Homo sapiens: one gene and its partners. The protein of the gene in region 3 interacts with the protein of the main gene of each other region in a pairwise test. Each region holds a gene or a part of one and is shown on either strand. Other genes may lie near its edges. The genes, in order: CNOT2, ALKBH7, CIMIP1 and EFHC1.

Evidence for each region.
Region 1: the proteins of CIMIP1 (region 3) and CNOT2 interact in binary tests that used the Homo sapiens proteins (3 or more experiments, as listed by UniProt).
Region 2: the proteins of CIMIP1 (region 3) and ALKBH7 interact in binary tests that used the Homo sapiens proteins (3 or more experiments, as listed by UniProt).
Region 4: the proteins of CIMIP1 (region 3) and EFHC1 interact in binary tests that used the Homo sapiens proteins (3 or more experiments, as listed by UniProt).

Annotation. Positions count from the first base shown.
Region 1 is NC_000012.12:70,322,967-70,331,008, forward strand, and holds part of CNOT2 (CCR4-NOT transcription complex subunit 2), read left to right. Parts: intron 1-6,456; coding exon 6,457-6,604; intron 6,605-7,320; coding exon 7,321-7,503; intron 7,504-8,042. UniProt on the Homo sapiens protein: Component of the CCR4-NOT complex which is one of the major cellular mRNA deadenylases and is linked to various cellular processes including bulk mRNA degradation, miRNA-mediated repression, translational repression during translational initiation and general transcription regulation.
Region 2 is NC_000019.10:6,368,627-6,375,750, forward strand, and holds ALKBH7 (alpha-ketoglutarate-dependent dioxygenase alkB homolog 7, mitochondrial precursor), read left to right. Parts: upstream 1-4,167; 5' UTR 4,168-4,194; coding exon 4,195-4,398; intron 4,399-5,178; exon of another isoform or gene 5,179-5,265; coding exon of another isoform or gene 5,266-5,391; intron 5,392-5,576; coding exon 5,577-5,750; intron 5,751-5,838; coding exon 5,839-5,963; intron 5,964-6,184; coding exon 6,185-6,347; 3' UTR 6,348-6,624; downstream 6,625-7,124. Other genes in the region: CLPP (ATP-dependent Clp protease proteolytic subunit, mitochondrial), read left to right, coding at 1-84; PSPN (persephin preproprotein), read right to left, coding at 6,668-6,990, 7,076-7,124.
Region 3 is NC_000020.11:58,146,165-58,154,343, forward strand, and holds the start of CIMIP1 (ciliary microtubule inner protein 1), read left to right. Parts: upstream 1-4,737; 5' UTR 4,738-4,800; coding exon 4,801-4,868; intron 4,869-7,379; coding exon 7,380-7,461; intron 7,462-8,179.
Region 4 is NC_000006.12:52,450,869-52,458,910, reverse strand, and holds part of EFHC1 (EF-hand domain-containing protein 1), read right to left. Parts: intron 6,224-8,042; coding exon 6,074-6,223; exon of another isoform or gene 4,817-6,073; coding exon 4,624-4,816; intron 1-4,623. UniProt on the Homo sapiens protein: Microtubule inner protein (MIP) part of the dynein-decorated doublet microtubules (DMTs) in cilia axoneme, which is required for motile cilia beating.

The DNA of each region.
Region 1 (8,042 bases), on a different chromosome or scaffold from region 3:
ATTAAATAACAGCCTGTGATGCTAACACATAGATTAAAAGATACCATGTGCAGAATGGTGTAGACAGACTTTTAGGGAGCAAATTCTGTCTATACCATTCTCCTTGAGGAGAACCAAAAAAAAAGGGAAGCTATAGTGGTATGGAAAAACTTCAAAAAGCAGGTAGGAATTAAAGTTGACAAATACTTATGGGTCCCTACCATACATGTTGTGCCATTCTAGATACTGCAGATGTGTGGTAGAAGAGATCATCCTCATTTATGCCATCTCTGCATAGTGTACCTACTGCTATGGTGTTGCTGCATTATTTATTGCATGTCCTCATTGCCTTTGTATCCTCTGTACCTCGCATATGACAAGCACTCAGTAAATCTTGAATGCATGATGAACAAGAAGCAGTCTCATATAATCTAGTAGGATAAGTACACAAATGATTTTACTATGTAGTAGAATAAGAAGTTCGAGGTTATTTGGATGTTTCAGATGAGATAGGGCACATTCAGGATGGTACGGCTGTAGACTATTTGGATATTTCAAAGACAGGAGTAATCAGGTATCTTGGAAAATGATTAGGAAAAGAATTTACTGATGAGATTATATTTGAGATTAGCATTGAACAGACTGTGAGTAAAGTTGTTTTAGCAGTGGGAATAACATCCACAGCATGGGATAGATTTAGGAATGGCCTACTTTATCAAGACAGGAGACACCTGTTAGGCTGTTATATTGATTTCAGCAAGAAGTACAGTCTTCACATTTCTGAGAGATTTATTTCAAGATCATTGCTACTTTTAAAGTTCAAGAACACAGCTATAGAATAACATTTTCCACCATAAAACATCCTTTTTGTGTGTGTGAAAACCATCACTTGATTAGACTATCTTATTTTATCTTCACTTTTGGTACCACCTGTTGGCTTTCTTTTCATAAGTATGACACACGCACACACACACACACAGAGCTAATATTTATTGAATATTATCTACTGTGTATCAGATGCGATTTTAAGTATTTATGTGAATTAACTCATTTAACCTTCACAGCAGCTCCACAAGAGTTTAAGGAATTTGTTCAAGGTTACACAGATTGTAAGTAGTAGAACCAGGATTATATTACTTTGTAAGAGTAACTATGTGAACATGAGCTGAAAACATCAGTTTCTTTGATACCTGAATGCCATGACCCTAGAAAGCCATTTGTACATAGTAGAAACTACCAGTGTTAAATCCACAGGTGCCAAGAATCTGTTGAATTAAGACATTGTGATAGAATGTATTCATTCTAATAATTATGTATTTATTGGGTGCCTACAATGAATGAGGTATTATTTCAAGATATAGATAAGAATATAGCAAATAACAAATGTCCTGTTTTTATGGAGAGAGAGAGAGAGAATGTTAGTAATACTGCAGTAGTCCAGGCAAAAAAAAATGGGATGACTTGGACTAGTGGAGGTGTTGAGAAGTGATCAGATTTGGTACATTTTGTAGATAGAGCTAACAGGACTTGATGATGTAGGAGTGAAAGAAAGGGATCAAGAATGATTTCTAAGGTTTCCGACCTGCAAACCTTTGTGAATGAGTGCCACTAATCTAGAGCAGAAATTTAGGTTGAGGAAGTGTAGAGTGTACTTGGGAGATCCACACAGCTATTCCACAGGTAAAGATTCTGTGGCACTCCTCTAAAGATCCAGCCAGATGTTGAGACTCTCAGCTGATTCGAGCACAGCAGCCACTTCTCATAGTTGTGGAAGCCACTTAGCTCCATCCATGTTTCTTGTCTTATACATTCTTAGCACCTAGAAGGCAAAGCCTGTTCCTCCGCCAGGTGTATAACTTGTCCTCATTTTCATATATCTCGTCATTCTCTCAGACTGAACTATTGTAACATTTATACCCACCTGACTCCCCACCACTGCCACCACCAAACACCTGGCTGAGTCTCATATGTTATTTAATTCATATACTATCTTCTGTCTCCTCCAGGAAAATTTTTCTGCTTCCAGACTCACTCTATTCCCAAGTCTGAGTTAGTGTGGTCCCTCCTACAAGCAGTCAAGCACGCTATGTCTACTGCATGTAAACACCTTGGTCATAGCACTTATTTATTTTTAAGTAGTCTTTTATATCTCTAGAACAAGAGAAGGGAAAGTATTCTTGCTGAGGAGTTAGATATGAGTAGTAAAGGACAGATTTGAGGAAAGGAATAGAGAAAGAAGAAAGAAGATTATAAATCAGATATGTAGTGTGTAAACAGAGTAAAATGCTTGTTAAGGTTAGAAAACATCTTTGGGTCTTGACAGAATTTTAATACTCTAGAACAGTGGTTCTCAACCCTGACTGCACCCATGGAAACACCTGGGGAATTTTTAAAATTCCACTGCCATGATTGCCCAAAATCACAATTGCTGGAGAGGAGACCTAGACATTAAAGTTCCCTGGATGATGCAAACATTATTAACTACCATTAAAAAATGGAAAATGATATTGGTTGCAAAAAAGGCATTGAAATAGGAGTCAAGAAATTGGATCATTGTCTTTAATGCCTCATTACTTGTGATCTTGAGCAAGTCACTTAATGCCTAGTGTGAATTCTTTATCTGTAACCTACTTGGATAATCTCTGGAGTCTTTTCTATTCTAAAATACTTTGAATTTAATGAAGAAAATTGCATAAGGAAATAATTTTACAGGAATCATTAACCAGCTAAGTGCAAGACAGGTTGAAGGTAAGAAGCCATTGAGATAAAGCACCATTTATGTTGTCCTTTTTAGTATGGGCATGCCAGTGAGTTCCTAGAGGAAGCTGGCTGCTTTGCAAATGGAAAAGGGGACACTTTAAGGCATCAGTTAAGGACTACTCTCTCCTGCCCCTATAAAGATTTTAGGGGACTTTATTTAAGTATGAATATTCAGGGATTTGGTTGCTATGATTTTATTTTTTCATGTAACTTAATATTTTTTATTTCTAGCAAAAAATTGAATAAAGAATGACGTATTTTGCCATAAGTGTTTAAGTGATGTGCTGTTAATCAGTTTGTGCAGTGGAAATAATTAATGGAATAATTTCTTAGATCATATTCTTTAAGGGTTTCTGAAAAATGATCAATAAGGAATTTGACTAACACCCTGCCAGATAAGAGGTAGGAATCTATTTAGAATGTGTTCGTATAGTCCTCCTAATATTGTGTTGTTATTATCAATTGTTAGATTGAAAGAAAAATTTGACTCAAAATTATAACCTTTTAAACTTTTTTTAAAATTTGTTTTTATTCTTTGTAAAAAGGTGATAACCTTTTTTATAAGATGATTATAAGAAGGAATTGAGAGGAAGTAGTATAGTGCTTTGTTGATAAGTGCCCAATAAATTTTAATTTTACTGTCCTTCCAGTCACCTGCTCATATACAAGCTCATTTATACATATTTATATTTTTGCCTGTTTTAGTTTTTTTATGCCAAGAAAAACTCCTTGAGTTCTTCCCATTTTTCTTTTTTTTTCTTTTTTTCAGCTGTATGTCCTATTCTTGGCATAATATTTTAGAGATGATTTTTCTGTGATTGTTTCTAATTATACTAGTGAGAGATTAGATTTTTTTCCCCTTGACCCTATTCAGTTGTGTTAGTTTGACTCAAGCAACTCAAAGTTAATGACTTAGTATATTTAGTTTCCAAAAAACAAATCTTTATATATACCTTTCCAGTGCCATTCTTTATGTTTTAAAGAAATTCAGTTTTTAAAATAAATTTAAAGTAACAATTATTAAGTATTCAGGGGTTGATGATCCAATTTGAAGTGATATATTCTTTTTTGATCTTTTTATACTACTTCAACAAAATTAAACTTAGACTTTTTGAATTTATTAGCTGTTTTTGTGAAGATTAATTTTAGAAAGCTAAAATTAAACACTGAAAGTAAGTTACTTTATTCCATACGGTCTCTGTCCAGTTTTAGCACTAAAATCAGTTCAAGGATGCCAATCCCTAATTGGCCAAATAGCCTTACCATTCTTGTTTTCTTCTCCAAATTTGTTTTTTTGCTGGTCAGATAACTTCCAATTTCTAAAATATTCCTGAAATGATAAATTTTTATGATACAGCATAGAATAATATGTATGTGGAGACTTGAAGGAGTCAAATCTCAATGAGCCTTTTGTAGGGCTTAACGATTGTTAAAAGGGGGCCAAAAGGGCACTAATTTTTGGAAAGTGTATGTTTGTTTATGGTGGTGAATGTGTAGAGAGGGTGAAAAGTAAAGGAAAAGTAGAACAAGAAGAAAGAAAACTGATAGGTATGACGATGAGAGAGAAAGAAAATGGAAGAGAGCAAGACGTGGAGATTTAGAAAAAAGGTTGAGGGAAACATATTCAAAAGGGAAAAAGAAAGCAGGGGGAAAATACATTAGAGGTGTTGAAATTAGTAGGCACTCACAGAGGTGCTAATCGAGAGTTCTGTTGGGCTCCTGTCATGCTGCTATTAAAGAGCATTAGCAGCTAAGAGATCTAAATTCTAGTCCTAGTTCTTTGTGTTGCCGTGGAGAAGTCAGTTAACTTACATGAGGCTCAGGTTCCTTACCTGTGTGTAAAATGGGAACATTGAACTAGGTGATCTTTAAGATCCCTTCCGGCTCTAAAATTGTTTGACATTATCTTGGTGGTCAGTAACTGTGAGAAACACATTCCTGAGGAAAATTTGCAGCTATAGTTGACTTCAGGACAGCATGTTTAGGGAGTAGAATGTAAGCTCCCTGAGGGTAGGGGCCTTTTCTGTTGTGTTCACTGCCATATCCCCAGCAGCTAGCACAATGCGTGTTACATAGTAGGCATTCATTAAATGTTTGTTGAATGAATGATGTGAAAAGTATGTTGATGGTTTGTTAGGAGCACACCTAGAAAGCCTCAAAGAAAAATGGTGTGCTTTAGGGAGGGAAAAGACAGATTTCTTCTGAAGAAATCTTAAGCAAGCTGATTTTTAATCCTTATTCTTCCTTATTTTGTCCCAGATTCAAAGAAAGTGGCTTCAGCTAGTGACATTCTCATAGTCACAAAACTTACGGTGACTGTAGACATACATAAAAGTGTACATGTAATCTAGGCCAGTTCCCTTAAAGTATCTTACAGAAAGGCAGGACCAAGCTTAGGTCTCCATGGAATCTGAGTGAAAAGTATATACATGGAATATATTAGTTATATTGAATTAGATTGATTGGATTAAAATTCATTCAGTTGAGAGGCACAGTTAGTCTACAAGCTGAGATACAGGCTGCCAAATTTAAGATAACGATCAGTGAGATACTCGCTAACCACTCCTATCCCTAGGTTAGAAGGTGAAACATTATTATGCCAAAGGATAAAATCACCTTAAATCCCTAGCACTGAAGTCATCTACTTACTGATTAGTTCTCACTCTATCTTATCACTTTTATTTAATCTCCAGTTCAGAATAAGTTTGGTTGATGAAGCAGACTAGAAGTAGAAAGCACTAAAAAGTGTGGGTCAGGAAGATGGAGGAAAGGGAGAGGAATTCGTAGACAGATATAACAGTGTAAGTGATAGCTGTACTTCTTGACTTTGAAGCATAAAAGGGAAAAAAATAAACGTATGCTGTCTATGATAATTATCCTGGATTATTAAAAAATTTATAATTCCTATGATCTGAATAAAAACTCAGGAAATATACATTTCTAAAAAAAGTTTATCCACAGTGGTTTTGTTTGTTTGTTTCGTATGAGAATGATAAAACTCTTAGCAGTCTTTAAAAAAAAAAAAACCTATTAGAATGTATAGTCCATCCCCACACCTGGCTCCAGGGGTACTAGATAAATACAGGGGCATTATATTTTGACGTCTTTTTAAATGTTTTAAAATTTTGTCTTTTATAGCTATATCAGTTTGAGTTTTTTTTAACAGTTGCTGGCATTTTATGTTGGGTTTGTAAAAACAGTAATGTTGAGAAATATGTATAAATAGTAAATTGGCTTTTTCTAAAATATAATTTTAAAGGATCACATAAAATTAAAGCTACTTCAGCAAAGCGGGGTTAAATGTCTTTCTGTATACATTAGTTGTGAATAAAGACATAAAAACACATTACTGCAAAATTTCATAATGGCCTCTTTGTATATACACATGTACATATATGCAAATAGGCCTTTAAGAAATTTTAGAGCAATATCCATTCATAATATTGTAACTTGTTAGTCATTTACATACTTCATAATGAAATTGAAATATGAAAAATAGGAATATGAAAGAAATATCCATTCATAATATTAAATTTCAGACTGGAACATATTTTTTGTTAAAATCAGAGTTTATTTGGAGTGAATCGAATATATCCATTTAAAATTTGCGTACTATGTTAGGTCATTAAAAGTGTCTTAAATCGCCAACTCCAGAAGATGGATAACAATTTCATTCCTGATGGCAATGAATTTCCTTCTTCTGAATTTTTTTATTAGGTGCACTAGGCCTTCCAATGAGGGGGATGAGCAACAATACCCCTCAGTTAAATCGCAGCTTATCACAAGGCACTCAGTTACCGAGCCACGTCACGCCAACAACAGGGGTACCAACAATGTCACTTCACACGCCTCCATCTCCAAGCAGGTATTTATTGATGGACCAGAATATTTTTCAAAATGTATCTTGGTAGAGTAAACAAACTTTTAGTTTTTTAATAAGGTAATTAATTACTTGATTTTCTGGTTCAGTGCCTTTCACTGAGGAAGAAAATACCTATGCTCTTTTTATTTCAGTGCAAATTGTTAAGTACAGTACAAGTGGTTTTTATACTGCAGCTCGCATACTGGTTGTCAGTGGGGTGGATATCAAGGGTTAATCATTTCCTGGGGAGCTTTTTCAAAAGGCACCTGTCTTCCTCAAAGGAATATGTGCAATTTAAAATTCCTCCCCAGATGATTGTGATCATTGCTCCCTCGCCACACATCCATTGCTCTAATGAGCATAAAGTAAAACAGATGACATAGACTATACATTTAGTATGCAGAGGATAGAACGATATGCCATTGAAATGAAATTATTCTAAATATGTGTGTGAAATACATTTATATTTTATGTCACAGTCACACCAGTAGTTCTCTCATCTTAGATACCACCTTTTATCAGTTGCACTATAATTTGCCCTTTATTGTTTGTTTACTTTTTCTTTTCAAAGAGCTAGAATGACTAAAGAATTAATAAAAATTAGAACTGCAATTTGAAAGTATATTTGAGATTCTAGGGTTGGACCAATTGATTATTTAAAGAGAATTTTAATGAGTGATTGTAGAGAGCTTATTTAGTATAATGGACTTCTTTTTCAGGGGTATTTTGCCTATGAATCCTAGGAATATGATGAACCACTCCCAGGTTGGTCAGGGCATTGGAATTCCTAGCAGGACAAATAGCATGAGCAGTTCAGGGTTAGGTAGCCCCAACAGAAGCTCGCCAAGCATAATATGTATGCCAAAGCAGCAGCCTTCTCGACAGCCTTTTACTGTGAACAGGTAAGATGTTTATTGATACTGTGTATAATTGTCTTTCTGGGTATACTCAGATTTGCCTTTTCATATTTTCACTTTGTTCTTGAGGTGTGGCTTCTCTCTAATAAGTGTGTTTCATCATGCATTTATGTCCAAAGATTCTGTTACCCATCACAAAACGATACGTTTTCTTGAAAATCAGGTTGATTTTGGAAAGCACATTAAAACATTTTGTTGTTGTGGTTGTTAGAAAAGGATTGTTCTTGGATTCGCCACCAGGCAAATTTTGGTTGATATGTCCTCTCTTTATAAAATAAGTTGATTACCTGTGTGGTAAGAGTTCTAGGTTTATGAATAGAACTGGAGACATGTTTGACTATTACTACTTTGCTTTAGTTATACTTTGAGTACCTTCTCAAGTAAGATTTGGTTTTGTGCATTGGAGACTTACCAACAAAAGACTTTTTAAGATCACATCTATAGTATTTGAAAACCGTATCATGTTTAGGGATTCAAAACAAAAAAACGGGTTTTTGTACTTTTTCACTTCTCTTTGTACTGTC
Region 2 (7,124 bases), on a different chromosome or scaffold from region 3:
GACGGTGAGGATGAGCCCACGCTGGTGCAGAAGGAGCCTGTAGAAGCAGCGCCGGCAGCAGAACCTGTCCCAGCTAGCACCTGAGAGCTGGGCCTCCTCTCCAGAATCATGTGGAGGGGCCAGAGGCCTGCCAGACCCCCAGCTGGGCCCTGCTCACCCCTTGTTGCTGGGCTTGGAGGGGCCTCTTGAGGAACTTTTAATTTGCAGGGGTGCCCGCTATGGACGGGGCATTCCAGCTGAGACACTGTGATTTTAAATTAAATCTTTGTGGTCTTTGCTCTGCGTCTGGGACACCCTCCCTTCTGCACCATGACAGCGTGTACACATCTGTGTTTCACAGGCCCCTTCTGCTTTTGTCCTGACCCCAAGAGGCAAGCCATGTCTTCCTTCAACAGATTCTCCTGATCATATCCTATATTCCAGGCAGTGTTCTTTTGTGAAGAAGACACAAGAAACCCTCCTCAAAAGAGCTCCATTCTTGTGGCAGTAGACAGTTACTAAAAAAAACAAAACAGGCCAGGCGCGCTGGCTCACGCCTGTAATCCCAGCACTTTGGGAGCCCGAGGCAGGCGGATCATGAGGTCAGGAGATCGAGAACATCCTGGCTAACATGGTGAAACCCCATTTCTACTAAAAATACAAAAATTAGCCGAGCGTGGTGCACCTGTAATCCCAGCTACTCCGGAGGCTGAGGCAGAAGAATTGCTTGAACTTAGGAGGTGGAGGTTGCAGTGAGCAGGATCACGCCACTGCCCTTTAGCCTGGGCAACAGAGCAAGGCTCTGTCTCAAAAAAAAAAAAAAACAAAAACAGGAAAGGTGGCATGCAAGTGTGAGGGTAAGCGTGTTACAGTTTTTTATGGGGTAATCAGGGAAGCCCTCACTGAGAAGGTGGTGGTTGAGCAAAGCCTCAAAGGAGGTGAGGGGTGGAGCCTGTGTCCAGGCAGAGGGCACAGCCAGTGCAAAGGCCCTGTGACAGGACTGTACCTGGCATGTGAGGACCTATGAGGAGGCCCGTGGCTGAGGGAAGGTGGAAGAGAGGAGATCAAAAAGTAGAGGTGAAAATTAGCCAGGCGTGATGGTGCACTTGAACCCGGGAGGCAGAGGTTGCAGTGAGCCAAGATCACGCCACTGCACTCCAGCCTGGGCAACAAAGCGAGATTCTGTCTCCAAAAAAAAAAAAGTGGAGGTGATTGAGAATAGATCATAAAAGGCCTGACATCTAAAAGGAGGGATGTGAACCATGGAGGGTTTTGAGAAGAGGAAGGAAAATAAGGATGACTATGACTCCTGAGGAGTGCACCATGAGCAGAAACTGGAGAGCAGTTAGGATAGTTGGAGTAATCTAGACGAAAGCTGATGGCAGCCCTGGCCGAGTGATGAGAAAAAGTCAGATTCTAGCTAGGTGGGATGTGACAGAGAGCAGTTTCCAGAAACTCCGAGCTGATGGCCCAAAGCAGGAAGATGGAGACCTGTCGCCTGAGATGGGAAGTGTAGGCAAAGGAACAGGCTTGGGGAGGGATCAGGAGTTGATTTTGGATATATTATACCTGATGTTTTGATATGTCCCTCGACATCAGGGTCAAGAGGTTGAAATAAAAACGTAGGTGTCATCGGCCGGGCGCGGTGGCTCACGCCTGTAATCCCAGCACTCTGGGAGACCGAGGCGGGCGGATCACGAGGTCAGGAGATCAAGACCATCCTGGCTAACAGTGAAACCCCGTGTCTACTAAAAATACAAAAAATTAGCTGGGCGTGGTGGCAGGCGCCTGTAGTCCCAGCTACTCGGGAGGCTGAGGCGGCAGAATGGCGTGAACCTGGGAAGCGGAGCTTGCAGTGAGCGGAGCTTGCAGTGAGCGGAGATCGCGCCACTGCACTCCAGCCTGGGCGACAAAGCGAGACTCTGTCTCAAAAAAAACAAAATGTAGGCGGCATCAGCATGTAGGCTCATTAACAGTCAGACTGAGACCTGGCTATTGGATTCGGCATTGTGGATGTCACTGGTGGCCTTAAATCAGGCCTTTTCTGGTGCTGTGGGAGCCAAAAGCCAGGCTGGAGTGGATCCAGAAAGGATAGGAGGAAACATATCAGACATAGACAAGTCTTTCGAGGAATTACACTATCAAGGGGAGCAGAGGGTGGGGGGGCAGATGTAGCTGGAGGGAGAAATGGGGTCAATATTTTTCAAAATGCAAGCATTCGGGCCGGGGTCGGGGGGGCGCTACGCTCAGCAGTTACAGTGTTGCAGTTTGCATTATGCACATTTAAAATACATACAAAAGTACCCAGAGCTTTGAGAGGCTGAGGGGAGAGGATCACCTGAGCCCAAGAGTTCCAGGCTGCAGTGAGCTATGATCGTGCCCTTGCACTCCAGCCTGGGCAATAGAGGGAGAAAATAATAAAATAAAGGCCGGGCATGGTGGCTCAGGCCTATAATCCCAGCACTTTGGGAGGCCGAGGCAGACGGGTCACCTGAGATCAGGAGTTTGAGATCAGCCTGGCCAATGTGGTGAAACCCTGTCTCTACTAAAAATACAAAAAATTAGCCGGGCGTGGTGGCAGGCGCCTGTAGTCCCAGCTACTCGGGAGGCTGAGGCAGGAGAATGGTGTGAACCCGGGAGGCAGAGCTTGCAGTGAGCCAAGATCCCGCCACTGCACTTCAGCCTGGGTGACAGAGCGAGACTGTGTGTCAAAAAAAAAAAAACCCAAAAACCAAAAAAATAAAAAACAAAAATTAGTTGGGCGTGGTGGCAGCTTCCCGTAATCCCAGCTACTCGGGAGGCTGAGGCAGGAGAATCGCTTGAACCCGGAAGGCAGAGGTTGCAGTGAGCCAAGACCGCACCATTGCACTCCAGCCTGAGTGACAAGAGCGAAATTCGGTCTCAAAAACAAACAAAACAAAAAAGCTGGGCATGATGGTTCGTTGCCTGTAATCCCAGCTACTCGGGAGGCTGAGGCATGAGAATCACTTAAACCCCAGAGGCAGCGGTTGCAAATCTTCAGGGCCTGAGATCGTGCCACTGCGCTCCAGGTTGGGCGACAGAGTGAGACTCTGTCTCAAAAATAAACAAATAAAAATAAATATAAACAAAAGTAGAGAAAACAGGGTAATGAGACCCCACGTACTTATCACACCAATTCAACAATTAATTCACGGTCAAAGATGATTCTTCCCTACCCGCCCCCTCCCTGCCCCCACAGCCTGGATTTATGTGGAAGCAAATCCCAGAGATCTTTTTTCTGTAAATATTTTTTTTTCAGTTTGCGTTTGTAAAAAACGATGACTCTTTTTTTTTTTTTTGAGACAATGTTTTGCTGTGTCGCCCAGGCTGGAGTGCAGTGGCGGGATCTCTGTTCACTGCAACCTCCGCCTCCTGGGTTCAAGCAATTCTCCTGCCTCAGCCTCCTGAGTCGCTGGGATTACAGGCACGCGCGCCACCAAGCTCGGCTCATTTTTTGTATTTTCAGTAGAGACGGGTTTTCACCATGCTGGCCAGGCTGGTCTCGAACTCCTGACCTCAGGTGATCCACCCGCCTCGGCCTCCCGAAGTGCTGGGATTACAGGCGTGAGCCACCACGCCCGGCCGAGGAATCAAAAAGACAACCATAATGCCATTTTCAAACCTAAAGTAATAGTGATACGGAGACGGGGAAATGAATGATACCTCGCTCTGACCTTTGACCATAAGCCCTAACTCTGGATAGCTGGCCCCACCACACACATAATCGTGGCCTTGACGTCAGTCCCCTGACCCCGGACCCTTATCTCGGCCTGACTGTACTCTGCCCTTAACCTCTAGCCCTAGTCGACTCCATAACCGTGGCCTTGGCCCCAGTCCCCCTGACTTCCGGACTTCAGACCAGATACTGCCCATATCCCCTTATGAAGTCTTGGCCAGGCAACCCCTAGGGTGTACGTTTTCTAATGATTAAAGAGGCGGTGCTAAGCTGCAGACGGACTTGCGACTCAGCCACTGGTGTAAGTCAGGCGGGAGGTGGCGCCCAATAAGCTCAAGAGAGGAGGCGGGTTCTGGAAAAAGGCCAATAGCCTGTGAAGGCGAGTCTAGCAGCAACCAATAGCTATGAGCGAGAGGCGGGACTCTGAGGGAAGTCAATCGCTGCCGCAGGTACCGCCAATGGCTTTTGGCGGGGGCGTTCCCCAACCCTGCCCTCTCTCATGACCCCGCTCCGGGATTATGGCCGGGACTGGGCTGCTGGCGCTGCGGACGCTGCCAGGGCCCAGCTGGGTGCGAGGCTCGGGCCCTTCCGTGCTGAGCCGCCTGCAGGACGCGGCCGTGGTGCGGCCTGGCTTCCTGAGCACGGCAGAGGAGGAGACGCTGAGCCGAGAACTGGAGCCCGAGCTGCGCCGCCGCCGCTACGAATACGATCACTGGGACGCGGTGAGACCGGCAGCGCCGGGGGCGAGGGACGGGGGCTCGTCGGGGGCGCGGCCTGGGGACGTGGAGCATCAGATGGGGCGGGGACACGCTGGGGGCGGTACCTAGAGCGGGGATTTGGAGCGGGGACAGAGGAGACGAGCGCCGGGACCGGGCAGGGCCACACTGGGGGCGGTTACAGTACCGTTTAGCGTGGGGGCGGGGCTACGGTGCTGGGGTTGTGGGGCCAGGGGGGTCGGGCGCAGGGATGGGGCGGGGCCACGCTGGGGCGGGGACAAAGGAGACAGCGCAGGGATGGGGCGGGGGCACTCTGGGGGCGGGACAGGAGGCGAGCGTAGGGACGGGGCGTGGCCACGCTGGGGGCGGGGACAGTGGGGACCAGTGCTGGGATGGGGCGTGGCCACGCTTGGGGGCGGTTACAGCGCAGTCGAGCGTGGGGGTGGGGCCAGGGAGTCGGGTGTAGGGTTGGGGTGCGATTACGCTGCTAGCAGTTACAGTGCAGAAGAACGTGGCGGCTGGGATTGGGGCGTGGTCAGGTCGTCGAGCGCATGGATGGGGCGGGGCCAAGCTTGGGGCGGGGTCCGTGGAGTCAAGCGCCGGGATGGGTTGGGGCCATGCTGTGGGGGGGACGGGGAAGTCGAGGTTTAGAGAGGGCAGAACCACGCTGGGGGCGGAGATAGGGGAGACACATGCTGGGATGGGGCAGGGCCTTTTTGGGGTCGGTAGCTATTGCAGGGATTTGGGAGCTGGGCTATGGTGGGGGCTGGGCTGAAACTCTGGCTGTGGGAGGGGCGGGACCTGGGGGATGAGGACCTTGGGGTCAGGGAGAGCACTTTTGCGACCTGGGACCAAGGTTAGGGGCGGAAACGGATGTGGAGCCAGATGATGTTGAGAGACAGAGACAGGACACTTGGGTGGGGTCAAGTTGTAGGGAGATTCAGCCAATTGAATGCTGGGGCCGGGCCAGCATTGGGGACCTGGAATTGTAGCCTCAGGGTGAGTACTAAGGACTGAGGTCACACCTAGGTAGGGCCATAGTTGAGGGGCTAGGGGAGTTTGAGTTGAGGGCAGGGTCAAGAGTCACATAGGGAAACCAGCCCCTTGCCGTTTTCTGCCCCTCCTTGCCTCAGTTTCCTTGTTCCCTCTGGGAGCTCCCAGGCTTAACCGAGCTCTCTGTGCAGGCCATCCACGGCTTCCGAGAGACAGAGAAGTCGCGCTGGTCAGAAGCCAGCCGGGCCATCCTGCAGCGCGTGCAGGCGGCCGCCTTTGGCCCCGGCCAGACCCTGCTCTCCTCCGTGCACGTGCTGGACCTGGAAGCCCGCGGCTACATCAAGCCCCACGTGGACAGCATCAAGGTGGGCAGAGGACGGTGCCTTGGCACTCCCAGCCAGGGGGTAGGCAGGCCCGGTTAGATCCTGACCCATCCCCACGCCTCTTTTGCAGTTCTGCGGGGCCACCATCGCCGGCCTGTCTCTCCTGTCTCCCAGCGTTATGCGGCTGGTGCACACCCAGGAGCCGGGGGAGTGGCTGGAACTCTTGCTGGAGCCGGGCTCCCTCTACATCCTTAGGTACCTCCATCCAGGCAGCACCCACCCCTCCAAGAATGTGCCATCCGCCCACCCTGTGCCCTGGGTACTTTCCCTCAATCCAGCCCTCCCCGAAGACGCCTTTACCCCAGGGTCTGTGTGGGAGGCAGCAGGGGGCTGGAATCCAGGAGGCTGGAATCCAGGTCTGCCTGGAGCAGGGGCTGCCCTCCTTGCACCCAGTCACAGCCTGTTTCTTCCTGCAGGGGCTCAGCCCGTTATGACTTCTCCCATGAGATCCTTCGGGATGAAGAGTCCTTCTTTGGGGAACGCCGGATTCCCCGGGGCCGGCGCATCTCCGTGATCTGCCGCTCCCTCCCTGAGGGCATGGGGCCAGGGGAGTCTGGACAGCCGCCCCCAGCCTGCTGACCCCCAGCTTTCTACAGACACCAGATTTGTGAATAAAGTTGGGGAATGGACAGCCTAACTGGGACATTGCAGTGGCTGCTTGCTGGGGCCGGGATTTGCAGGGGAACCCAGGATGGCACTGGCCCATAGGGAGCTCCAGGTGTGGCTGGCTGGACACATGGTCAAAGTCACAAGGCCGGGAGAGTGGTGTCCTTTATTGCACTCACTGCTGGTCGCCCCAGCCCACTCCCCTCCTCGTTGTCTCTGCATCCAGGTCTCCAATAAATAAGTCAGCCGAGCTCCCCCAGCACTGCAGCTTCTGGGTGCCAGGCCGGGCACCCTCAGCCACCACAGCCGCAGGCAGCCGCCGAGAGCTGGGGCAGCCGCTGCCAGCGGTGGCGGTCATCGAGGAAGGCCACGTCGGTGTAGCGAGTGGGCCGGCAGCAGGGCCCGCCGTGGGCTCGGCCCTGGCCCTGCAGCCGGGCCAGCGCCAGGCCATGCTGGGTGCGGGCACCACGGGGGCAGCTGCCGGCGCAGTAGCGGAAGATGACCTTCTCCTCTGAGGCGTAGCCCAGGCCTAGCTCTGCCACGGACAGGGTCAGGCTCCACAGCTGGCATGGACCAGACAGGGCTCGGCGCAGGCGGGCAAGGGGGCGGTGGGTGCCTGTGGGAGGGAAGGGCGCTGACAGTGAGCAGGGTCAGGGCTGGGGAAAGTTGGGAAGTCACAGAGGGTCCCTGGAAGTCCTTACCCAGCCAGGTCCCTCCAGCCTTTGCCACCTGTTCAGACGAGAACTCTCC
Region 3 (8,179 bases):
GTGTGAAAAGAGAAGAACCTCTGGGTCCCTTAAGCTGAAGCTCAGTTAAGCCATCCAATACATTCCCTACAAATTGGCACTTTCAGCTCCAGCCTCCATGCTTTTGTTGTGCAGTTGAGGTAATGATCACCCGTGCTGTGAGAAAGGCATGCAGGCTGGCAGAAACCACTCATGGCACAAAGCATTCTTTGGTTTAAAAAAAAAATCATAAAATAAAAAAGAAAGCTGTTTAAGCTTAAAAACTAAAAAAGAAGCGGTTGGCTCCAGTTGTCGACATGTTTTATAAAGCAACAGCAAAATGAAAAAAATAAAAAATAAACTGTCCCAGAGAACTGAGAGAGGGCCAAAAATATTAATACACGGGAACATGGCGAACCTTCTACAAGCTGTAAATATTTTCCTAGTTTCCCACGTGTAGTCAGCAAGTACGGCAGTTCTTTTTCTCTCTCCACTCTTCCTGTTGGAAATCTATGTGGAATAACAATTTTGCCAGAAAAAAAAAATATATTAGGTTGAAGAAATTGTGTCTGCCAGGGACTCATGAATTGGTTTCATATATCAGAGGGAGGGGGTTTCAACCCCCAGAGCGAGGAAAATGGAGGAGGATATACAAAACAAAGAAAAAGACCACCAGAGCTTAAAACTAAAAATAGAGTTTGATGTATGTGAATGTCTTAACTTGCCGAGCATGGGGCACGGACCAGTGAAGAAACTCACTGAGGGTGGGGTGGCACCGAAGGTTCAAGATGCCCAGATCAATTTGAATCGAGTGATTTCTCAGTAGAAGTACAGTACACCCCCATGCAAACTTGAGTTTAACTGGGCATCCTGTATTTTTATTTGCTGAATCGGGCCATACCGCTGAGTGGGAGAGGCATTTCAGTGGTTGGAAGAGGGGCTCCTGGTGGTTCTGCTAACGAAGGATTGATAACGCACATCCTGATTGGACAGAGCGAGCTTGTGGGTCCGTTCATAGTTGGTTGAAACAAGGAAGGAGTCTCAGGGGAGACCCAGGAGGTGGGCGTCTCAGGGTGTCTAAGTCTGCGTGTCAGCTGTAGTGACATATGGCAGGTTCTATGTGACCCCAACAGTGCTGCCAAAAGGGGAAACTTTGCCTTTTACAGACACCACCTCAGAAAAAGCTGGACCTGCACTGCTTCCTCAACCCTCACGTACTGCTGAGATTCACAGCCATGCTTCAGCCTTGAAAGTCATCTCGGAAGATAAAGCCATCTTCCCTGGTTACGAGAGAGAGGAAGACTCAGAAATGTCTGCTCCCCATCTTCCTCAGGAGTTCTGCCCCTAGGAAGGAAGGAAGAAGAGCTGCCCTCCAAGGCCAGGGTTCCTCACTGAGCCAGTTCTCCCTTCTGCAAAATGGTCACAAAGCCCTCTGCAAGGGGTTGCTGTGACCATCTGTATGAGATCATTCTCACATTGCTACAAAGAAATCCCTGAGACTGGGTAATTTATAAAGAAAAGAGGTTTCATTGGCTCAGTTTTGCAGGCTGTACAAGAAGTATAATGCTGGCATCTGCTTGGCTTCTGGGGAGGCCTCAGGAAGCTGCAATCACAGCAGAAGGCAAAGGGGAAGTAAGTACATCACAGACCAGATCAGGAGCAAGGGCCGGGGGAGGGGCCACACACTTTTAAACAACCAGATCTCGCGGGAACTCACTCGTGATCGCAATGACAATACCCAGGGGAAGGTGCCAAACCATTCATGAGAAATTCACCCCCATGATCCAATTACCTCCTATCAGGCCCCACCTCCAACACTGGGGATTAGAATTCAACATAAGACTTGCAGGGAATACAGATCCAGACCATCTCACCATCAAATCAGAGCATGCAGGGAAGTGCCCCACGGGGGCTGGGGAATGCTGGTGCCCTGAGGGTGACCAGGACAGCCTCAGACTCAGGGCAGAGCCCAGAGGAGCAGTCCCTGGTGAGTGCAGCTCTGGGTCCTCTCTCACCTCTTGAGAAAGGGGAACCCAGCCTTCCCTGGGGACAGCCTCCAGCCACCGGCCATCCACAGCCTCTCCTTCAACACTGTCATCCTCAAGAAGCAAACCCCACTTCCACCCAAAGCCACATTTCCATCTCCCCACGCCTTCCCCCAAATCGTAGTGTCTTAGATTGAGGGAACTGCCTGCACGCTGACAACAAATGTGATAAACCAGGAGTGAAGCCCTCCATTGTTTGGGAGCCCCGCTGTCAGGCTCCCGCAGAGCTCTCTGCCTTTGCTCCTCTCAGCCTCTGCAGATCCCTAAAATTGGGAGGTGTAGTCATGATCCCCTTTTCCAGATGAGGAAATGGGGGCTCAGAGTTGTTAAGCAATATGCACAAGGTCACTGAGATGGCACACAGCAAACCCGAGACCTGAGCTACGTCGGATCCCAAAACCCAGACATTTATCCGGTACTCTACCCATTTCTAGTCCTGGACCCAGGCTACCCCGTGCAGATATTGCCAAGGAGAATGGAGAAGACTAGCAAACTCTTATTCATCCTTGAAAACCCAACTCACTCATCACCTCCTCTGTCCTCTTCTGTCTCATCTGGGGCTGGCTCTGAATCACATATACCCTATGTCATTTCGTATATAAGGCTGCGTTATCATTTAGTTGCATTCACATCTGCTTACCTGCTAGATTGAACTCCTGGGGGACGCATAGTGCCTGCTTCTCCATTTCTGCACCCATTTCATTTCCATGGAACCCTCCAGCTGCACCGGCCCCCTTTGCATTCTTCAAACACCCCATGCTGCTCCTGCCTCGGGAACTATACTCCACACCACCCGCTCTGTGGGAAATTCTTCTGATCTTCCACACCAGATCTGCACCCACATGTCTCCTCCTCAGAGAGACCTGCCCTGACCGCCTGTTTAACACAGCCCCACAGCCCCTGGCCTGTCCCTGCCCCCACTGGCCTCATGCCCTGGTGTGACTCTCTTCCTAGCACGTCATGCCTCTCTCCCTGGCACCAGGTCACACGTGCATTTGTTTCCTGGCTTCATTATCTGTCTTCCCACTCGATGTGCCAGCTCCAGGGAAGCAGAGACCTTGCAGGTCTGACTCCCTCCTGGCACCAGACACATCAAAAGCTCTCAACACACGTCCATAGGATGAAGGAACCCTCGATGTCTGGCACTGTTAATGAATTTAGTCTTAATTAATCATCTTAACAGAAATGTCTCAAAACCTCCCAAGGAGGAAAGCAGAATTTGTTCTTACTACATAATGGATCTTTCTTCCTAGCCATCCACTTATTTCCTCCCAGAATATCTTCCCCTCTGTTGTAAGAATGGAGACCTTGGAGAACAGTCCAGGAAGAAAATCCCAGCTTCCTGCCTAGAGATCTGTCCACCCTCTTGCTAGCCCACTAGCTTGCAGTTGGCTCAGCCGTGGACCTGGGATGTTATATATTCATTAATTAATCAATTCAGCTCCGATGCCAGCCTCTGCTTGCCCACTCACTAATCCAGCTGAGGGACAGTTGGGACCACCCTAATACTGGGCGTGGGCCAGGCATTTCCAACAGCCAAGAAAAGCACCATGTGCTATGAAGGGAAAACACACTAGCTGAGCTCCCCTCTAAACACCACACATAAGTACAAATCTGTTGATAAGGGAAGAGGCCATGGAGATGGACTAGGGAGAGTCTCAGATACCTAACTGGTGGATACACACACTGGCATCCTCCCAGACCAGTGCCCTGGTAATTATCTAGGAGGTGACCTGTAGCTCAACTGAGTCATGCTTCCTCCTCTCTCAGTCCCCCGAGGCAGGCTCTGGACACCTGCTCATCTCATGGCTGCTCAGCCAGAAAAATGTCCTCCTACATCGTGTAGATGATCCCCTTGCTGTTGTCTCAGAGCCATTTTCCAGCTCTGGGTCCACAACAATGGGGGTATGGTAGAAACCTAGGGGGTCAATGAATCAGTCAAAAAACACTGGCTGAGCACCCCAGCGATAGAGTGATTACTGCCTATAGGCAGGGAAAAAGAGTGTGGGGTGGTGGGGTCTGGAGGTAACATTATCCGTGAATTTCATTTAGGGATTGTTACAAAGAGTGGACGCCAACCAAAACGCATATTTTCTCCAAAGACATGTGCAGTAATATTTTAGCAGCACTTTTGTGGTGGCCAAAAACTCAATGCAACGCCCATCAGCAAATACTGTTCAGGAGCAGAAATGGACGCTAGGGCCACTCACAGCAACGGGGATGCTCTCTCAATCATGACACTGGGCAAAGGCAGCCAGGCACAAAGGAGAACATCTGGATGGTTCCACTCACACAAAGTTCAAATCACAGCAAAGCTAATCTTTGCAGAGGGAAGTCAATGAGAGCCAGGGAGGACGGTGACCCTGGGGGCCACTGGGGGAGGCTGGCAATGCTTTGTTTTCTAATCTCCAGGTGACGGTTACAGGCGAGTCCTCTCTTTGACATACTCAATTAAGCTCTGTACACTTGAGCGTCTGTCCACTCGTAGGTGTGCATACTTCCACTGCGGATTTAAACTTTCAAAGAAGTCTAGGGTGTTAGGTCTGGAGGTTTCCCCAAGGTTTTCCACAGATGAGCAAATGGGCCTAGAGGTGGACAAAGGGCCCAGACGTGAGCAAAGGATGGCAGCAAGCCCGGACCCAAGCGACGCGGCGAAAGCACAGCGACCCCACCCTCGCCAGGTGCAGAGCCATTTCCGCCTCCGAGTCCTGCGTTGCCTGGCAACCGGTCTCCCAGGAGACGCGAGACGCTGAGCCCAGGGCCAGAGCTTGCGGGGCGCACAGAGCCCCCAGGCCTCATGGCGCAGAAACCTCTCAGCACCGCGGCGGCTGAACGCATGAACCTTGTGGGTCAGGATGAGATCTGGTAACGCCTGGGATCGGGCAACGCGGTGGGCTCCTGTTCTCACCTGAAGTGTCCACATCTGGGGTCTCAGTTTCCCCACCAAGTCCGGGAAGTGATCGACCACTAAACTCGAGGGGCAGAGGGGCGTGCGCTGAGGATGGTCAGGGGCCTTGAGGAAAGGGGTCAATGTTAGGGACATGAGAGCGACAGGAGGGCCTTTCTCCGTCTCCTTCTCCCTCTCCTGTTGGGCCCACCACGAAGACGTGGGAGATTGGCTTTCAACAATCAGCAGAGATTGGCTTGTTGAAATCCAACTAACATGTTCATGTTTTTTTTTTTTCTTCAAATCTCAGCATCCAACCAGAACGTGTTCATGTTTTTAAGACTGATGATTTTTGTTTGTTTGTTTGTTTGTTTTTTGAGATGGAGTCCTGCTCTATCCTCCAGGCTGGAGTGCAGTGGCGCGATCTCGGCTCACTGCAACCTCTGCCTCCTGGGTTCAAGCAATTCTCTGCCTCAGCTTCCCGAGTAGCTGGGATTACAGGCGCCCACCACCACACCCGGCTAATGTTTTTGTATTTTTAGTAGAGACGGGCTTTCACCATCTTGGCCAGGCAGGTCTTGAATTCCTGACGTCGTGATCCACCCGCCTCGGCCTCCCAAAGTGTTAGGATTGCATGCGTGAGTCACCGCGCCTGGCCAAATTTTTTTTTAAAAAAAGAAAGCAAAAATCCTAATATTTGTTAAATTTGAATGAAGTACATGAAAATCCCTTGATTCTCCTGGGTTTTTAAGTAATATATTTTAACTTTAAAGATACATCCATTTTCTAAAAGATGTATGTCTAGCAGACATTTGTCGTGGATATTTTAATTGGCATGCTATCTGCTACGTATTATTGCATCTCTTTGAAAGTTTAACTCATATGGGAATTTACAGATTTAGATATAAGTAAGTTGTAGTAACAATAAAACATACTTGTTTACCTTCTAAACTTCAGTTATCCTATTTACCCTCTCTATAATTTTTACCATTTCCTTGTAAAACCTCTATTAGTCACTTCATATGTGTCTTTAAATTGTTTTCACTTGATGATTTTATGGAAAACTTCATATCACTCTCATAAATAGAAAACCTTTATCATTTGGCATAAAATACACAACTATTTTTTACTAAATCTTTATCCAAGTGTCCCAATAGGAGATGCTGCCACAGCAGGATCTGTTCCCTCTGTCTGAAATGCCCCTTCCTCTCTTCTTCACCATACAAACTTCTGCTCATCCTTCAAGACCCAAATCTAAGTGACCCCTCCTCTTTGAATAGGGCCCTTGGCTACCTAACACTTAAATTGTAACTGGTCCAAATTGGGTTCAGCCGTTAAGTGTAAACTGCGTGACAAATTACGATGATTTATTTAAAAAAAAAAAAGATTATTTAAGTGACTGTCAGCCGGATGCAGTGGCTCACACCTGTAATCCCAGCACTTTGGGAGGCCGAGGCCAGGAGTTGAAGACCAGCCTGGCCAACATGGTGAAACCCCATCTCTACTAAAAATACAAAATTATCCAGGCATGGTGGCACACACCTGTAATCCCAGCTACTCAGGAGGCTGAGGCAGGAGAATTGCTTGAACCCAGGAGGCGGAGGTTGCAGTGAACCTAGATTGTGCCATCGCACTCCATCCTAGGCAAAAAAAAGGCGAAACTCCATCAAAAAAAAAAAAAAAAAAAAAAAGACTGTCACCTGTTTATTCTTATGTTCTTTTTAATGTAGTTACTAGAACATTTCAAATTGTGTATGCAGCTCATGTTTGTGGCTTATGTTACATCTTGATTGAAATAGACTCTGCCTTAGATGCTCACTGCCCAGGGCAAAGAGTTGACCAGGGTCTCCGAAACTGTGGGGTAGGGATATGCTGATATTGATTCCAAGATAGAAGAAACTAGAAAACTCAAAACGATTGAATGTTTAATTTGATGTTTGCAAAATGTGGCACGTGGGCTCGTCTACTGCAATGCCACTCAGCTCATGGGTAGTTAGATATAAACAATATTAGCATGGAGCAAAAGCAAGGTCGGATTAGGGTGGGGCAAGTGAGGCACTTGCGCTGCAATATTTAGGAAATGCTCCACGTCAAGGTCATGCAGACGCTGTCTCTGCACTTGCAGGAAGCAGGGAGTGAGTGCCTCCTCCACTTTTGCACCTCCTCAAATTTTGAGTCATAAGGGCCTCCAAAATAAGAGATCTGGTACCTAGAAGGCTCCTCAGGCAGAATCGGCCCCCAGACTGGCCCTTACCCGGCATTCCCTCTCAGCCGTAACAGCCAACCAGCATCTCTCTTTCGTTAGCCACGTGTCTCCCTTGCTGGTGGGAGGTGCTCAGCATCAGAGGTTCTCACGCTGTCTGGCTCCTCACTCCGTCCCTGGTGCAGAACCACTGCCCAGTCAATGTTCGTGGAGAATGGAAATGTCCCCCACAGACCCCTTGAACCTTTTTCCGTGTTGCCCAGCACTCAGGAACTTTCTTTTTCAGGAAATACCGTCTGAAGGCTGAATCGGAAGCACGGCAGAACTGGCCCCAGAACTGGGGGTTTTTAACAACCCCTTTTGAGGAGGTAAATATAAATTGTATGAGCCCCAAGGTTACAGAATCAATCATTTCAAAGAATGAATGATTACAAAGTCTATCACTTGCAAGAATAAAACTAAAGAGCATGTTGTAGGCAAAGATCACTAACTCCTAAACCAGAAGGTTCCCGCCTTTCACAGATTCCTGGGCACTGACCACATGCCAGGCATGTTCTAGGTGCTTCGGCAGAACCAGATGATCAAATCTGGACAAGAACCCCGGTGCAGAGACAGGTGTTGTTTTATGCCCATTTACAAATTAGGAAATTGAGCTCCAAGACCTGCAAAGTCACACAACTGATAAGGACCCTACTCAGGTGAGAAGCAGGTGGGTCTGATGCCACAGCCACCTGACCTCAGACTTCCCATCTGTAAAGTGGGATGAGAGTCCTCACCTGCCTAACTGAGCGACTGTGAGGTGCAGATACAAGAAGGCTATGGACACCTCACCTGGCCTGGAGGCCAAGTGACATATGAGGGATTCTTGGGAAAATGCTGTCGGTATTCCCTAAAGATGACAAGTCCAGAAGTCTACAGGGACCAGCTAGGTGACAGAAACAGGAGACAGGGCCAAGCATAATTAATCAGAAGGGGTGGAGACTCAGGCAAAGAGGCCACTGGTCCTGTCCAAAGAGGCAGCCAGCATGAGCCCAGCCAAGTGAAACCATATGGGAAAGCCAACTGCATATTCCCATCACTCAAGAG
Region 4 (8,042 bases), on a different chromosome or scaffold from region 3:
GGTGTATATGTACCATTAACACATTTTCTTTATCCAATCCACCAGTGATGGGCACCTGGGTTGATTCCATGTCTTTGCTATTGTGAACAGTGCTGCAATAAACATGAATACAAGTATCTTTTGGATACAACAATTTATTTTCTTTTGGGTATATACCCAATAATGGGATTGGTGTAGTTCTACTTTTGGAGAAATCTCCAAACTGTTTTCCTCAGGGGCTGAACTAGTTCACATTCCCACCAACAGTGATAAGCATTCCCTTTTCTCTGCAAGCTTGCCAACATCTGTTATTTTTTGACTTAATAATAGCCATTCTGACTGGTATGATTGCATCCCTCTGATGATTAGTGATGTTGGGCATTTTTAAAATGTTTGTTGTCCATTTGTATGTTTTCTTTTGAGAAGTGTCTGTTCATGTCCTTTGCCTACTTTTCAATGGGGTTATTTGTTATTTTTCTTGTTGATTTAAGTTCCTTATAGATTCTGGATATTAGACATTTGTCAAATGCATTGTTTCAAATATTTTCTCCCATTCTGTAGGCTGTTTCCTCTGTTGATAGCTTCTTTTGCAATGCACAAGCTCTTTAGTTTAATTAGGTCCCAATTGTCAATTTTTGTTTTCATTACATTTGCTTTTTTTTTCCCCCTGCTCTGAGACAGGGTCTCACTCTGTCGCCCAGGTCTATGATCCATTTGGGGTTAACTTTTATGTATGGTGAGGTAAGGGTTGAAGTTTATTTATTTATTTACTTTTGCATAGGCTATTGAATTGTTCCAGCACCTTTTGTTAAAAAGACAATCATTTCTCCACCAAATTGCTTTTTTACCTTTGTCAAAAATCAAATGACCTCATATGTGTGCATCTATTTCTGGACAATTTGTTCTATTTCATTGATCTGTATGTTGATCTCATCAGATTGTAAAGTCTTTGAGATATGGGGCTTATAGTAGTTTCAGATCTCCATTGCCTAGCATGGTGTTTCCTTCATCTATATGGATGTTCGATTAATATTATTCGAATGACTGAGTGAGCCAACAAAGATGCACAGAAAGTGAGGAAATACATTCAACTTTCTGGAACACTAAAGGTCTAAGGGGTGTTCAAGATTCATCTAACAGGCAAGGGCAAGATCAAACTATGAAAGCCAGTCTGAAGGATAACTAACATATTTAGACTTTCAGAACCTGGTTCCTTGGGTTCAAGAGCTGAGTAGAAAGCTTTTGTTAAGTCAAAAGATGTCCTGTTTTGATATTACCTGCCACCTATTGGTAATATGCAATTGCCCTTGACGAAGAAATAACTTTCTGAATTTCTGATATTTTAACTCCATCCATTATAAATATATAATTTTGATTTATCTTAGCTACTTAAAAGGAGGCCCTGGTTGAGAGGACTTCTGAAAGTTACTCCCATAATTTCCTATTACTGTCTAATACAAACTCTCTGCCTAGCCACCATCTCTTGGGCGCCCCCAAACATGCCATACTTGTTCCTAATTCCCAACTTTTGCTCTTGTTCTTCTTTCTAGTGAGCTCTTTGTTCTCTGCCATTCTAAATCTGAGTCTAATCCCAGCTCTTCCACAAAGACTTCTTTAGTTTTTCAGGCCCACACCTTTGTCCTTCTGACCTCGGTCTGCATGACTTAACTAATTACATAATCAGATAATCTGGTATACTCATGTTATTACTTAACAGCTTTGTGTATTTTATATGCCTTGTCTTCTTAATGACACTAGAAATGACTGAAAGATAGGATTCTAGGAATGGGAGTTACATTTTGTCCTCCATAGCATTTAGCATGTGAAATGGTTCCCATAGCAGATTATTTACCTCTTGTTTAATTGAATTTAATAAAAATCACCCATTGGATAAATGCCTTTGAGAGTCAATTAGACATCATTCTTTTAACACTACCCTTCTAGTTAAAGGAATTATGTAGCTGATGGGAACATAGCCTTTTCTGTACCTCATGACTGATACCTTTTTTCTTTTTTTGAGATGGAGTCTTGCTCTGTTGCCCAGGCTGGAGTGAAGTGGCGCAATCTCCGCTCACTGCAGCCTCTGTCTCCTGGCTTCAAGCAATTCTCCTGCCTCAGCCTCCTAAGTAGCTGGGACTACAGGCACCTGCCACCATGCCCAGGTAATTTTTGTATTTTTTAGTAGAGAGGGGGTTTCACCATGTTGGCCAGACTGGTCTCGAACTCCTGACTTCAGGTGATCCTCCCACCTTGGCCTCCCAAAGTGACGGGATTATAGGCTTCGGCCACAGCGACCAGCCTGTTTCCTACTTTTTAAAAGAACCCTATATATGCCACCAGGCTGCCTCTCCATGCAACTTTGATAAAAAATTTTTAATTGGGAAATTATAGAAGAGGATAATTATATATTAAGTTTTCAATATAGGTCACATTGATAAAGCAGAGACAAACCTGGAATCTGTCATTTAAAGGGATTTAGTTTCAGTGAGACTTTTCATGCCACCCTGAATATATTCCTATCCATTTTCTTTATCTATTGTAAATCTAATGTTTGTTAGCTCCGAACTGCATGGATTTCAGGCTTGTTTAAGCATTCTGAAAGGCCAAAATTACTATATTAGTCCCATTGTCATTGAACTCTAAGACGGTTCTGTAGAGAACTGATTATAAGAATATGTATAGTAGGTAGAAGCCAAACTATGTTGAACTAGGGCACAGATCCAGTTGTTTCTATTTGAGAATACAAGCTGAATTAGCAGTATTTTCATTTTTTTAAAAAAATATATAACATAAACTTTCCTAATTCTAAAATGATGACAATTTTCACTCCCTTTTATCCTTTTCCCCAATCTCATTCTCCTCTCCTCACATGCAATCATTCTAATGCAGCTATGTGACTGAATGTGTCCTACGTGTACTATGTTTTGCATGTGTTATAGCATTATATATCTAATTTCATGTATTTTTTCCTACACAGCACTATGTTTTTAAGATCCATCCACTTGCTTTCTGTGTACATCTTGTTTACTGCTTCTAACTACTGTATATTAATCAAAATGTACCTTCACTACATTTTTGCTTATCCATTCTCTCAATGATGGAAACCTCCAACTCCTTGCCCACAAATAATACTGCATTTTTCATAAAAAAGCACTGTGCAAGTGAAGCAATATGTACAGACACGTTGAATTTAGCCTCAGACTACACATTTATTTATAACCTCTAATGTAGACAAACTTCTTGCTCAATACCTGAAATTTCTTTTTCTTTTTTTTTTTGAGATGGAGTCTCACTCTGTCACCCAGGCTGGAGTGCAGTGGCACGATCTTGGCTCGCCACAACCTCCACCTCCCGGGTTCAAACAATTCTCCTGCCTCAGCCTCCTGAGTAGCTGGGACTACAGGTGCACGCCACCACGCCCAGCTAATTTTTTGTATTTTTAGTAGAGATGGGGTTTCACCATGTTAGCTAGAATGGTCTCGATCTCCTGACTTCATGATCCACCTGCCTTGGCCTCCCAAAGTGCTGGGATTACAGGTGTGAGCCACCGTGCCCAGCCCCAATACCTGAAATTTCTTATATCCTAATTCCCAAAAAATATAGTAAAAAGAAAAAAAAATCAGTGAACACATTTACAGAATCCTGTCAGCCACCCAAACATAAGAGCTATCAGTCATTACATGTGACCAAGATGACATTATTCTAAGAGAAATGTAAAAACTACTAAGACAATAACTAAAGCAAGCCTACTCATCCCAGGAAACAGTGAACAGCAGGTATTTGCTGCCATTTTGTTGCACTGCCACTCTCAAATATGGTAGGTAACTTTTTTTCTTTTTCTGGAGATAGGATCTCACTGTTGCCCAGGCTGGAGTGCAGCACCACAATCACAGCTCACCGCAGCCTCGACCTCCCAGGCTCAGATGATCCTCCCACCTCAGCCTCCCAAGTAGCTGGGAATACAGGTGTGCGGCACCAAGCATGGCTAATTTTTGTATTTTTTGTAGAGAGGAGGTTTCATCACGTTGCCCAGGCTGGTCTCAAACTCTTGGGCTCAAGCAATCCACCCGCCTCAGTCTCCCAAAGTGCTGGGATTACAGGAGTGAGCCATCATGCCCAGCCCATGCTAGGTAATTTTAAACCAGTAAAGAATGAGCTGGGTTTGACACAATGGACCTCACCTCTATGAGTCACAGACATGCCTTTTCCAATCTCAAGTTAAACCACATAGAAACTTCCTGTTTAGGAAGTAGTTGAAGTGAGAAGCAAAGTCAGGAAAGCATATAAAGAAAAGCTAAGCTTTCATTCATATCCTTGAATGAAAACAAGCCTGTTTGAAAAATGCATTAAAAATCTAATATTAAATTGTTTCAGTTCAGAAACCTTGCTCTGCTGCACTTTAAATAAATCTCCCACTGTTGTTTTGGTTTTGTTTCCTTGACCTGGGTACCAGACTGTCTTGGGGGCACGCCTGGACCGAGGGGCAAGTAAAGGAGGAAAGCTGTGGGAAGCCATTTTCTGAGCATCTAAGCAAAAATAGCTAGAGGCTTCCAAGTATAAACGAATTTTGCATACTGATTAAGTAACTCCTTTAAGAACCTAAAAACATCCCAAGTAACAGAGAATAAACTGAATCAAACATACTTGCATTTTCCACCAAAACTTTGGGCACACGCTGGCGGTTCATTAGGAGTGGGAAAGGATCTCTCCCATCATTCCGTTCGTGGACCTCTCGAATTTCCACCGTATCATCCATAAGATAGTAATGAATGATGTAGGTCCGACATTCACCATACATGCTGTCTGTATCATCCCAGATTGCATAGAATCGAAGGACCTTTGAAGAATCCAAAGTAGTGACTCAAGAATCCTAAAAGTAGGGAGTTCAACTTGGCTACTTTGGCAATTATGTATCAACGATGGAAAGACTAGCTGGAAAGACTATGAAGTAATTTCAGATGGGGTAAATTGAAAAAAAAAGAAATATTCATCAAACATACTAAAACATCTGAAATTATGTACTATATGTCAGCAGCTGGAAAGAATTAAATAATAGGATTATAAGTTTGTGCCAAAAAAGAAGAGCTCACTTTGATCCAAAATATTAGTCAGTGAAAGAGAAGCTAAATTAAAAGAGCAATGAAGTTCTTTACATAGTGGTATATATATATTAATAAAGGTACATGTGAATATGGTTTATATATAATTAGTGTAGAAAAAATTTTTATTTATTAACCAGTCTTTTTTTGGTCCCATCAACACATATCTTCTAGCAATAATATAAACACAATCTTTTTTTTTTTTTTTTTGGCTAGGCTTCTTCAAATCGTGGGAATAAACACAATCTTTAAATACAAAATAATAACAGATATATGACTGATATGAACAAAATCCTTAAAAGACCATGCTAGTGCTAGTTTACATTTTCTGAACTAAAAGGGGTTAAATGTCTAAAGAAAAGGAGCAGCAAAGAAGCACTGAGGGTGATCTCTTCCTTTTCTTTCTCCCTTTAGTACAGAAAGGGAAGGATTTAAATCTGCTTATACACATCAGCTCACAAGGGAGAGGATTAGGAAGGTTGGAACAGAGTTGGAAAATGCTCAGAACATTCTGGACTCCAATATTAATATAACATTTAACAAGGAAGCATCTGTAGTGGGGCTTCTGTGAAATTAAACATTTTAACATTACAACCTACATGTATGCATATTTGTGAAATTTCCTAATAATCGATTTATGGTTTCACAAAGGAGTCTATGAAATTAGCTCATTTTAAGGGAAAGAAATTGTCAATTGGAAACGTAAGGTGGGAAGCAGATGTAGCTCAGGAATTGCTTTGAGATTTAAATGTTTGGTGAGGTTCACAAAACAACTCCGCAACTCCACGATCTTCTTTGGATCTCCATATGAAATGTAGGCATTCCTGTACCTGTAACCCTTGATGAAAGCAGAAAGACAGTACTGTGTCCAAACAGTTCAATTATAGCTGTAATGTTTCAAAATAGTTACCAATACAGCTACCCAAACCTTTTGCCAATAAATGTAGGTCACATTTGGAAATAAGTAAGCCTATTGTGGTTCCTATGTCACTTACCTGTTTGTCAAAGGTGAGAAATTGCTTGAGTTGATCAAAGTCTGATGGGGTGACATACTTACGAAGAGGCTGTTTTCGGAGTTCAGTGTAAGGATCAAGAGCCATCTTCTCTGGTGGATTTAACTCAATTCCTTGGCTTTCTAAAAATACCTAAATAATTGAAAGTTAACAATGATCATCTTTCTTGGAGCTTTTCAGAGTAAGTTATAAACTGATTATATAAAAATAAGTGTATGGGCCAGGCACTGTGGCTCAGGCCTACAATCTCAGCACTTTGGGAGGCTGAGGTAGGAGGACTCCTGAAACGCAGGAGTTCACAATCAGCCTGAGCAACATAGTGAGACCCTGTTTCTACAAAAACATTTAAAAGTTAGACTGGTTTGATGGCATTTGCCTGCAGTCCAGGCTACTCAGGAGGCTGAAGTGAGTAGACTGCTTGAGCTCAGGAGGTCAAGGCTGCAGTGAGCCATGATCATGACACTGCACTCCAGCCTGCGTCACAGCAAGACCCCGCCTCAAATAAAGAAAAAAAGAAAGAAAAAGTGTAATAATGATTTCTATGCCATTGCTTAAGTTAAACATTAGTTTGCTGCTTGAGCGCATGTAAGCTGTATTAAGTCTCCAACTGAGCCAACTCCATAATGCAGGTAATAATTGAGAGTTACCTGAAGTATTTTATATTGTTATATTGCTAGGTATTTGCTAAGCTAGTTGGGAGGCACAATGGCAAAATAACTGTTTTCAAATAATTTAAATCAATCAAATTTAGTTAGGTGCCTGTAACAGAGTAAGTCTTAGGATTGCTTACTTTCATATATCTGGAACCTAACCATGGTTTCAAACAATATGTAATTCCTATTAGGTCTGGAGGCAAGATGCACAATGGCCAAGTTAGGCTGAAATCATATTCCCAATTTTCTAATTCACTTAAAACAAATACTGTATATGATTAAGTCCCTTCCCCTCACCAAAAAAGAAAAAAAAGAAAGCATACCCACTGGTTATATTAGACCAGAAAACGTGTTAGCAAAATAGGAAAGACAAACCAAGTGCTCAAATTTCACCAGACATTCCTGAAAGGGACAGTGAGAAAGCAAACAACTTGGAAAACATATTTCAGGATATTGTCCACAAAAACCTCCTCAACCTCGCTAGAGAGGCCAACAATCAAATTAAGGAAATACAAAGAATCCCTGCAAGATTCTATGCAAGGAGATCATCCCCAAGCCACATAATCATCAGATTTTCCAAGGTCAAAATGAAAGAAAGAATGTTAAAAGCAGCTACAGAGAAAGGGCAGGTCACGTACAAAGGGAACCCCATCAGGCTAACACTGGACTTCTCAGCTGAAACCCTATAAGCCAGAAGAGATTGGGGGCCTATATTCAACATTCTTAAAGAAGAAAAATCTTCAACCAAGAATTTCATATCTAGCCAAACTAAGCTTCTTAGCAAAGGAGAAATAAGATCCTTTTCTGATAAGCAAATGCTGACAGAGTTCATTACCACCAGACCTGCCTTACAAGAGATCTTAAAAGGAGCACTAAATATGGAAAGAAAAGGCCATTACCAGCCAATACAAAACACACAAGTACACAGACCAGTGACACTATAAAGCAACCACACAAACAAACCAGCATAATAACCAGCTAACAACACAATGACAGGATCAAATCTACACATATCAACACTAATCTTAATTATAAATGGGCTAAAGGCCCCATTTAAAAGGCACAGAGGCCAGGCATGGTGGCTCATGCCTGTAATCCCAGTACTTTGGGAGGCAGAGGTGGGTGGATCACTTGAGGTCAGGAGTTTAGGACCAGCCTGGCCAACATGGTGAAACCCAGTCTCTGCTAAAAAATACAAAAATTAGCCAGGCATGGTGGTACACACCTGTAATCCCAGCTACTCGGGAGGCTGAGGCAGGAGAATCACTTGAGCCTGGGAGGCAGAGTTTGCAGTGAGC